3 separate regions of the Homo sapiens genome follow, and all the other regions are linked to region 3. Evidence: fine-mapped QTL for protein levels in blood plasma. A gene starts in region 3. Each other region holds a variant in brackets. All regions are shown on one strand. Distances are from middle to middle.

Region 1 (2,756 bases), 14 kb after region 3:
CCAGGGATCCCCACAGACCTGCATCCCACCCCACAGGACCCGGCGGGCCTTCTCCCCAGCCTGAGTAGTCAGAGACTAGTTCAAGGCTCTAGAGCTGAATTCGGGGCTGGGGAGCAGGGGAGATGCCAACAGGGAGGTCAGAGGGAGGGGTGCCACAGCTGGGCCTGTGCCTCAAGAGTCAGAGCAGAATGGGTGGGTCTGATTCAGAAGGTAGCAGGGATGTGAAATGGAGCCTGCTTTCCGGTCCCTGTAAAGAAAGGGAACTCCAGGTGGCTCGTCCCCATGTGTGGGGTTGTTCCCCAATCACATGGGGAATCAGAAAGCAATCTGGCCATGAGGCAGGGGCCAGGGAGCTGTGGCTTGTCTGGAAGCTGCACAGCAAGTCCAGTGTGCGGTTATTTGTGGAGGCCTTGAGGGAGAATTGATGGAAACTGTGGGGGGCAGCCCCAACCCCAAGCCACCTGGAGGCTGCCTACTTTTGACAACTACAATATCCCTGCCAACAAGCTCAGGGGCAAGGGTGTTACCAGGTCTGCTCTGTGCCTGAAGGACTTCAGCTCAGAGAGGCTGAGCTCCTACTCAGAGTCACACAGCACTGCTGGCTGCCCTGAGCACTGGCCACAGCCTTCCTGACTCCCTTTCCAGGGCTCCCCTCCCAGAGTCCTGCCCTCCCACTGCAGTTCTCAGGCCTCCCCTTAAGGGGCTACAGAAAGGTCTAGAATGCTGGCCTCATTGCTAGAGATTCTCTCCCTCTGGAGGGCTAAGTGGAGCCCAGGCAGGCACATTTTTAACTTTCTCTCCCAGGGGACCCACTTGGGGCAATGTTGCCACATGACCTGGCATCACAATCTCACTAACTGGCCACTGGACAAATTCACACATCTTACCACATGGTCCCATGGTCTGGTCCCCAGCATGGATGTGGTCTGAGCCTATAGCATGGGGTCTGTGGGATTTGGGAAGAACTCACACGTGGTCTTGCAATGTGGTCTTGGCTCTGTGGTCTCCTGGCAGCATCCCCTTGCTCAGCAGGTGTGCTTCGCCTCCTGGCCCTCATCTTTGCCATAGTCACGACATGGATGTTTATTCGAAGCTACATGAGCTTCAGCATGAAAACCATCC[G/A]TCTGCCACGCTGGCTGGGTGAGTGGGGCTCACTGCTGGGGGCAGGAACTGCAGACCAGGCCTGGGGGCCGAAGACATATTCTTCCCTCCATCCCTAGGTGACCCAGGAGACATGACAAGCTGTGCTGCCTTTGGGACCCCAGCAATTGCAGGGAGAGGGGGCACCCCCAGACTACCAGGAAGGGTGGAGTCCATGGGGAACAGAGGTGCATTGCAAGGGCCTGGGCAACACATGTGCCCACATCGAGGACCACTTTGAAAAGGTGACCCGAAGAAGGAAGGAAAGAAAGGAGGAAGGACAGAGGGAGGAAGAACAGAAGGAAGGGAGGTGGGAGGAAAGGAAGAAAGAAAATCATATATTGAGCGTCTTCACCTGCACCTGCTGCTCCCTCTTCCTGTATCTCTTCATGCAGATCCCCCCCACCTGCCCTCCCACCTGGCTCCTTCTCAGCCTTCGAGTTTCAGCTAAGGTTGCCCTGCTAAGATTGCACCCCTTCCTCCTAGTTTAGCTTCTCTCATGTCAGGCTTTTCCTTTCAGAACACCATCATTATCTGTCATTATGGTTTTTATGTTTCATTGTTTGTTGCCAGTCTCCACACCCTAGAATGTGAGCTTCCTGAAGACAAGGATTTTATTTTGTGTGCATCCACCTCTCTAGTGCCTGGCACAGAGCAGATGCCTAGTAAACATTTGATGAGTGAAAAAAAAAAAACGGATGGATGGATGGATAAATGGGTGGGTGGATGGATGGGTAGTTGGAAGGATGAGTAGATGGATGGATGGGTAGATGGAGAGATGGATGGATGGATGGATGGATGGATGGATGGACAGATGGATGGACAGATGGATGGATGAGTGAAGAATGGCTGAGTGGGTGGGTGGATAGATAAATGGATGGTTGGATGGGTAGATGGAGGGATGAGTAGATGGACAGATGAATGGGCAAATGGAGAGATGGGCGAATGAATGAGTGGGTGGAGAATGGATGAGTGAGTGGGTGAATGTGTGAATGGCTGGATGGATAGATGGAGGGATAAGTAGATGGATGGGTTGGTGGAGAACAGATGAGTGGGTAGATGGATGGGTGGATGGGTAGATGGGTAGATGGAGGGAAGGGTGGATGGATGGATGAGTGGGTGGAGAAGGGATGAGTGAGTAGATGGATGGGTGGATGGGTAGATGGGTAGATGGAGGGAAGGGTGGATGGATGGATGAGTGGGTGGAGAAGGGATGAGTGAGTAGATGGATGGGTGGATGGCTAGATGGGTAGATGGTGGGTGGGTGGGTGGATAGATGAATGAATGAATGAATGAATGGATGGACAGGTGGAAGGATGCTGGATGCTAGCTGCTTTACATGCATAGTCTCATTTAACCTGCACAAATGTTCCACAGAGTGATCTATGGTGTGGTTGTGGAATGGACTCAAGCACAATCCTTGATGTGGTTTCACATGTGTTCTGAGAAAACAGAAGCTTGAGGAGATTTAAAAACTCACCCAAGTTCCTCTTGGAGATATTAGAACAAGAACGGGAACCCAGGTCTCCCAGATTCATATCCTTTCTGATCAAAGGAAGAAGTGAAGGGAAGGGATTTATATCTCTGGATTCATCCCGCTTGAAGACCAAGAACCA
Region 2 (2,756 bases), 25 kb after region 3:
GAGGGGAAGCGTGGCTGGCCTGGGGGAACAGAAGGTCTCAAAGACCCGCAGAGCTGTAGAACCGCAGAGCTAGCCAGGCCCCTGCCACATGCTCCTATCTCAGGAGGACACACTTCTCCTATGGAACATGAGTGAAACATGACCCGATCCTCAAAGCCTCTCTGCTTAAGCCAACACAAATGAGGATGTGGGGACAACCAATGACAGTGCAAGATCACATGCTGAGTATACACCTTCATTCATTCATTCAACAAATACAGGCAGCAGCTACTGTGGGCCAGGCTCTGTACAGGACACTGGGGGTCAGCCAAGAACTAGAAAGGCCCTGGCTTCACAGCCTCCGTAGGTATCCGTGAGGCTCACAAACAATCTCAATGTGGTGAGCCTCTCTGGAGGGGCAGGAAGCACAGCTATGGGAGCTGGGATGCAGAGCTGGGATGCAGAACAGGGGACAGACCCCGGGTGGTTCAGGGGAGGCTTCCAGAGGGAGCTGATGGCCAGCTAAGGCCTGAAGGATTGTGGGCGCTGGCCAGGAGAAAATTGGGGAAGGCTCTTTCCAGGCAGGGGCAACACAGTGCAGGGAGGAGAAGGGAAAGGGAGGGAGAGAGGTTTGCAGGGCAACATAGAGAGGCAAGGCTGGGGACAGCAGCAAGGCCAGAGGATGAGGAGCTAGCAAGCCTGCTAAGAAGTGTGACTGGAAGCCGAGAGCAGTAGGGAGCCACGGAAAGGCTTTGAGCAGTGTGTGAGGGGCCAGGCATGCACTCCAGAAACCTCCCTCCAGCTTGGAGTAGGGGGGCTGGAGGCAGGGAGACCACAAGGGAATCCATGGCCTTGATAACCCTGCATCTCCTGCAGGACACACACTTAAACAGGAGGCCAGAGGGCCGCCAAGCCTGAAGTAGGGACACGTTTCAGGAGGGAGTGGACTTACAGGGTCAGGTAAGGACCAGGTGGTCTAGCCCCAGCCAGACCTCCTCTCTGCCTCTGTTCTTAGAAAACAGAGTTTTCTAAGAACTGGCTGTAAGGGCCACTTCTGGGACAAAGGTCAGGGCAAGTTGGGGAAAAGGTGTAAGGGATGCTCAGGAAGGAACTTGTCGAGCTTGTGTGTGGCAGGACCACATGAGCACACTTAGGAAGGAACAGGGTAGGATGGGAGCCCCGGCCTTGCCAGCTCCAAGCCCCTGCACTTCACTCCAGAGAAAGCCTTTTCTCGCTCTGCCAAGAAACCCTAATGGGTCAGGGGAGAAGTCGAGGCCTGGAGCAGTGATGGGGCTGTTCCTGGACAGATGGGAGTCAGAGGACAGCCCTGGCCAACTTCCTAGGA[G/T]CCCAGGAAGGGCCAGGGCAGGGAGTGGCAGGAGGCTGAGTGCAGCCGTTCCTCTGCAGCTTTGAGGAGGGCCCAGGCCTGTTCCACTCCAGCCTCAATGAAGTGGCATCCCTCCTGCAGGGAGGGTGTGCCCAGGCTGGTCTCAGAGCGCTCTTTTGTGCATGCCAGACCCCAGAAGACTGTAGGAGCCTCAGCATACATCAACACTCCCATCCATCTGCCCTCACCCCACAGCGAGGGCAGGCAGGAAATGGCACAGGCTGCAGCTGACCTGGCTGAAACCTGCTGACTTTCTCCCCTAAATGGGTCGCACCTGAGAAAAGCTTTTTGAATATTCTCCAATGAGATGGCCCCAGACTAGGCCTCTTTCCCTGCTTCTCACAAAGCCAAAAGGATGAAAATAACCATCAATGGCAATAAGAACTAGCATTTATTGGGCACTTACTGTGCCTTTTCATTTAACCCCATCACTGTGTTAGGATGGAGCTATGCTCAATATCCCCATTTCCCAGGTAAGAAACTAAGGCTCAAAGAGGTTAAGCAGGCTGGGTGCAGTGGCTCATGCCTGTAATCCCAGCACTTTGAGAGGCTGAGGTGGGCAGATCTCTTGAGCTCAGGAGTTCAAGAACAGCCTGAGTAACAGTGAACCACCCCCCGAATCCGCCCCGTCTCTACAAAAAGTAAAAAAATTAGCTGGGTGTGGTGGCGCACACCTGTAGTCCCAGCTAAGGCTGAGGTGGGAGGATTGCTTGAGCCTGGGAGGTCGAGGTTGCAGTCAGCCAAGCTCACACCACTGCACTCCAGCCTGGACTGCAGAGAGACCCTGTCCAAAAAAAAAAAAGAGGTTAAGCAACTTGCCCAAGGTCACACAGCCTATAAAACCACCTACGTTTGAACCTGGATCGAGTCAACTGCAGGTCTTAATCATTCACCTGAACTACCTCCCTAGACTAGAAATGTCTCAACCACACATACAGCACCTACTGTATACATGCGTGCTATGTATGCCAGATGTGGGGAAGCCCAACAAATCATGTAAGGGGCTCAGTGTCCTCATCTATATGACCAAGAACAACACAAGGATTGCTAAGGATCCAGTAGTCTTTAACCTTTAGTGGGGCAGAGAGTCCTCAGGATCTTCCAGCTATGCTGGCCGCCACCCCCACCCCCAACACTCTCCAATTGCAGAATCATTCACAAGCGCACGCGATCACAAAAGCAGCCCCATGGGTTCATAGACTCCTTCCAAGAGCCCCAGGTGAAGCATTCCGTTCACGCTACGTGGCTCCCGAGAATCCTGGAGGGGCTGCTAAGCGAGCCTGCTCGCGCCACCTGGACAGCCTAGGCCTGGTCCCCACCCTCCTCCGTAAGCCTCGGAGCTGCCATCCCCTCTGCAACGCCTCCATCTAGCGGCGGAGAGCGCGAACTGTAA
Region 3 (2,756 bases):
TTTCACAGGAGTCTAAAGGTCCACACTACGTCCAGATAGCCTTTGTCACAGGCTGTCGTCACCTGTCCTGCTGAGGGCCCACTCCTCTTCCCCAGAAATCATTTACTCTCCACTACGGTGCTGACACCCCACCCCTCTCTCCCTTGTGAAGAGGGTATACAAGCTTCTAAATCTTACTGGGTGTGGGGAATTCCTTTTCTTTCCTGGGATGCCCCCATGCATGTGATAAATGTCTGTACCTTTTCTCCTGTTATTCTCCCTGCTGTCAGTTTAATTCCTGACCAGCCAAGGCAGCTAGAAGGGTAGAGAAAGCCATTTTTACTCCCCTACACTTGTGTGCTTATTTATATTGGAAGTGAGGGTCAGGAGGGCCCCCCTGAGGAAGTGACACTGCAGGTCAGGTCTGAACAAGACCCAGGCACCAGTTATGGGCAGAACCGTCCTAGCAGAATAAGGGAGAGCAAGAGGCAAGGAGATGGGACAGAGGACAGGACCAGTCCTAAAGCCAGTCAGAGTGAAGGAAAGCACTGCCTCGCCCTGGGATACATCCTGAGGGGGCCCACGTGCCTACCTGGGGATGGGCAGCTGGAACAGCAGAACTGGGGCCACTCCCGGCACCTCATCACACAGGGTCCGCTCCCTGCTCTTCCCTTGCACCAGCTCCCTGGGCATGCATCTTCATTTCCTGACCAGCTGCTGGACCTCATGCCCCTGAATATTCCTTCCAAGTGGGCCACACAGCCTACGGAAGCATTCAGAGTCAGCAAACAAGGGAGGAAGTTGCCAGGAGCCTGTGTGCCAAGGACCGAGGCAAGAACTCCTCCTAAGAGGAAAGCGCTTGGGAAAGAGACCATGATTTGTGACAAAGACTGGGAGTGCTGGATCAGGGGAGGGGGAAGCTGAGCCCCTCTCAGTGCACCTTGGGTCCTAAGGAGAGAGAAGGGAGACAAAGGCTGCATTCACCATTTCACTAAAAGTCTGCCACTGAGCAGCCCTTCTTTTCTTTCTCCGTCTTTCCCTTTCTCCACACCCCACCCCCTCCACCTTTAACCTCTAATTCAATATGCCCCACCCAAATCCAGAATCTTTTCCCAAACCACTTCCTCTCCCCCATCTTCCTCACTCTTGACCAAGAAGCCTCCCTTTTCCATCATCCAAGCTCAATATCTTGCAGTTGCCTTTGACCTCCTCCATCTTTCCTGTCCTGAGTTTCTTGCCTGGGTTCCCCTCTTTCCAGTCAGCCCCTCCAGCACCCCCCCACACTCTAGTCCAGAACCTCAAAGCAGGTGATCATCAGCTGCAGTTACTCGCTCTACCAGCCCCACACCTCCCAGCGCCTGGGGAGGTTGTTAGCACAGGGTCGGGTTTTTTGTAAGGTTTTTTGGCTGTTTTCGAAGGCAGATTGTGGTATCTCATTCCTGATTAAGTTGCTTGAATTCCCACCCAAACCTCCCTTGCCAAGGTCAGGATAGCTCTACAGGAAGGGAACAGGCATGGCCCTTCTCCCCAGGCCCCAGCCAGGCCCTAAGCCACTCCTCAGCCAGGCAAGACTTTAGACTCATTTCCTGCCCCGTGAGCACTTAGAATAAACTTCCTCCTTCCTTGTGAGATTGTTTAACAGGGCAGGGAGAGTTGATGGCAAACTTCCTCAAAGGAGGGGCAGAGCCTGCGCAGGGCAGGAGCAGCTGGCCCACTGGCGGCCCGCAACACTCCGTCTCACCCTCTGGGCCCACTGCATCTAGAGGAGGGCCGTCTGTGAGGCCACTACCCCTCCAGCAACTGGGAGGTGGGACTGTCAGAAGCTGGCCCAGGGTGGTGGTCAGCTGGGTCAGGGACCTACGGCACCTGCTGGACCACCTCGCCTTCTCCATCGAAGCAGGGAAGTGGGAGCCTCGAGCCCTCGGGTACGTCCCCCCAAGAATGGAAAGGGCTATGGTTCCAGGTACACATGATTGACAGAGGGGAAAATGGAGGTGGGGAGGGTGGGAAATAGGAGTGAAAGAGCCTGAGACAGAATGATGAAAGGAAAGAAAGAAGGAAACCACATAATCGAAGAGATTCCTGAGATCAGACTCAGGAAGGCAAATAGATTTCATCTGAGGCACCAGGCCTGATCAATGAAATTAGACTGTGATAAAAAGGATTCTGGGGCTGGGTTCGGGCTCAGGCAAAAGCATGCTATGATTGATTAGCTATGTCTGCCATGGGCACAAGAAGGAGCTGTAGGGCATGCCAGCTAGGGATTTGATAACCCACACTGCAGGGTTTTTTCCTTAACCACAGGGGCCCCTCAACATTTATTCTTTCATTCACTCATCTATTGATTCAAAAAAACACATTCCAATGATCAACAGTGAGCCACACAAATATTTGAAAAATGAATAAAAAAGAAAGGAATGTTGTTCTTTGGCCCCAAATCTCATTTTTCTCATAAGGTAATGATCTGAAAAGTTATGACAAAGGTGCATGGACTTGAGAGATTTTCTAGCTATGTAATATTGAGCTAGTCCCTTTCACTAAGACTCAGTTTCCTCATCTGTAAAATGGGAGAGAGAGTCTGAATATCCCCCATCAATCGCTGAAGTTCTCATTGTCTACGCAACTATGATAATCATCACTGAAGTACATAAAATAACATGTATGATGTGCTAAGTGCTCTCCATATAATAACACATTTAATCTTCCTATCACCTCTACAAGGAAAGCACCATGATTATTCCCACTCTGCAGACGGAGAGCCAAGGCAGTGAGAGATT

Which allele goes with the higher level. Alleles are on the strand shown, and positions count from the first base shown. The strength of an association depends on the size of the effect and on how common the allele is.
For the plasma level of the protein whose gene starts at base 1,706 in region 3, allele A in region 1 goes with a lower level than allele G (strong association).
In carriers of allele G in region 2, the plasma level of the protein whose gene starts at base 1,706 in region 3 tends to be lower than with T alone (weak association).

Evidence for each region. PIP is the chance, under the fine-mapping model, that this variant and not a neighbour inherited with it causes the effect. The UK Biobank Pharma Proteomics Project read protein levels with antibody pairs (Olink). The fine-mapping took linkage between variants from a reference panel, not from the people measured, so its PIPs are less certain.
Region 1: its variant is fine-mapped to the plasma level of the FAM3D protein (UK Biobank, PIP above 0.99). The variant lies in the coding sequence of FAM3D. If it changes the protein, the assay may bind it differently, which can mimic a change of level.
Region 2: its variant is fine-mapped to the plasma level of the FAM3D protein (UK Biobank, PIP above 0.99).

What each region holds. Positions count from the first base shown.
Region 1 is chr3:58,652,058-58,654,813 of GRCh38, reverse strand. FAM3D (FAM3 metabolism regulating signaling molecule D) reads left to right here. Exons shown (of 10, transcript NM_138805.3): 3 at 1,033-1,140. Among named protein-coding and RNA genes, the nearest start is that of FAM3D, 13 kb to the left of the region's middle. The variant G/A (reference allele first, on the strand shown) is at 1,123.
Region 2 is chr3:58,640,779-58,643,534 of GRCh38, reverse strand. The region is part of intron 6 of FAM3D (FAM3 metabolism regulating signaling molecule D); the gene reads left to right. Among named protein-coding and RNA genes, the nearest start is that of FAM3D, 25 kb to the left of the region's middle. RefSeq lists enhancers at 2,103-2,603, 2,604-2,756 and a silencer at 2,642-2,756. The variant G/T (reference allele first, on the strand shown) is at 1,325.
Region 3 is chr3:58,665,724-58,668,479 of GRCh38, reverse strand. FAM3D (FAM3 metabolism regulating signaling molecule D) reads left to right here and starts at 1,706. Exons shown (of 10, transcript NM_138805.3): 1 at 1,706-1,904. It overlaps LOC105377109 (a long non-coding RNA gene), which reads right to left. Exons shown (of 3, transcript XR_940879.3): 2 at 572-927.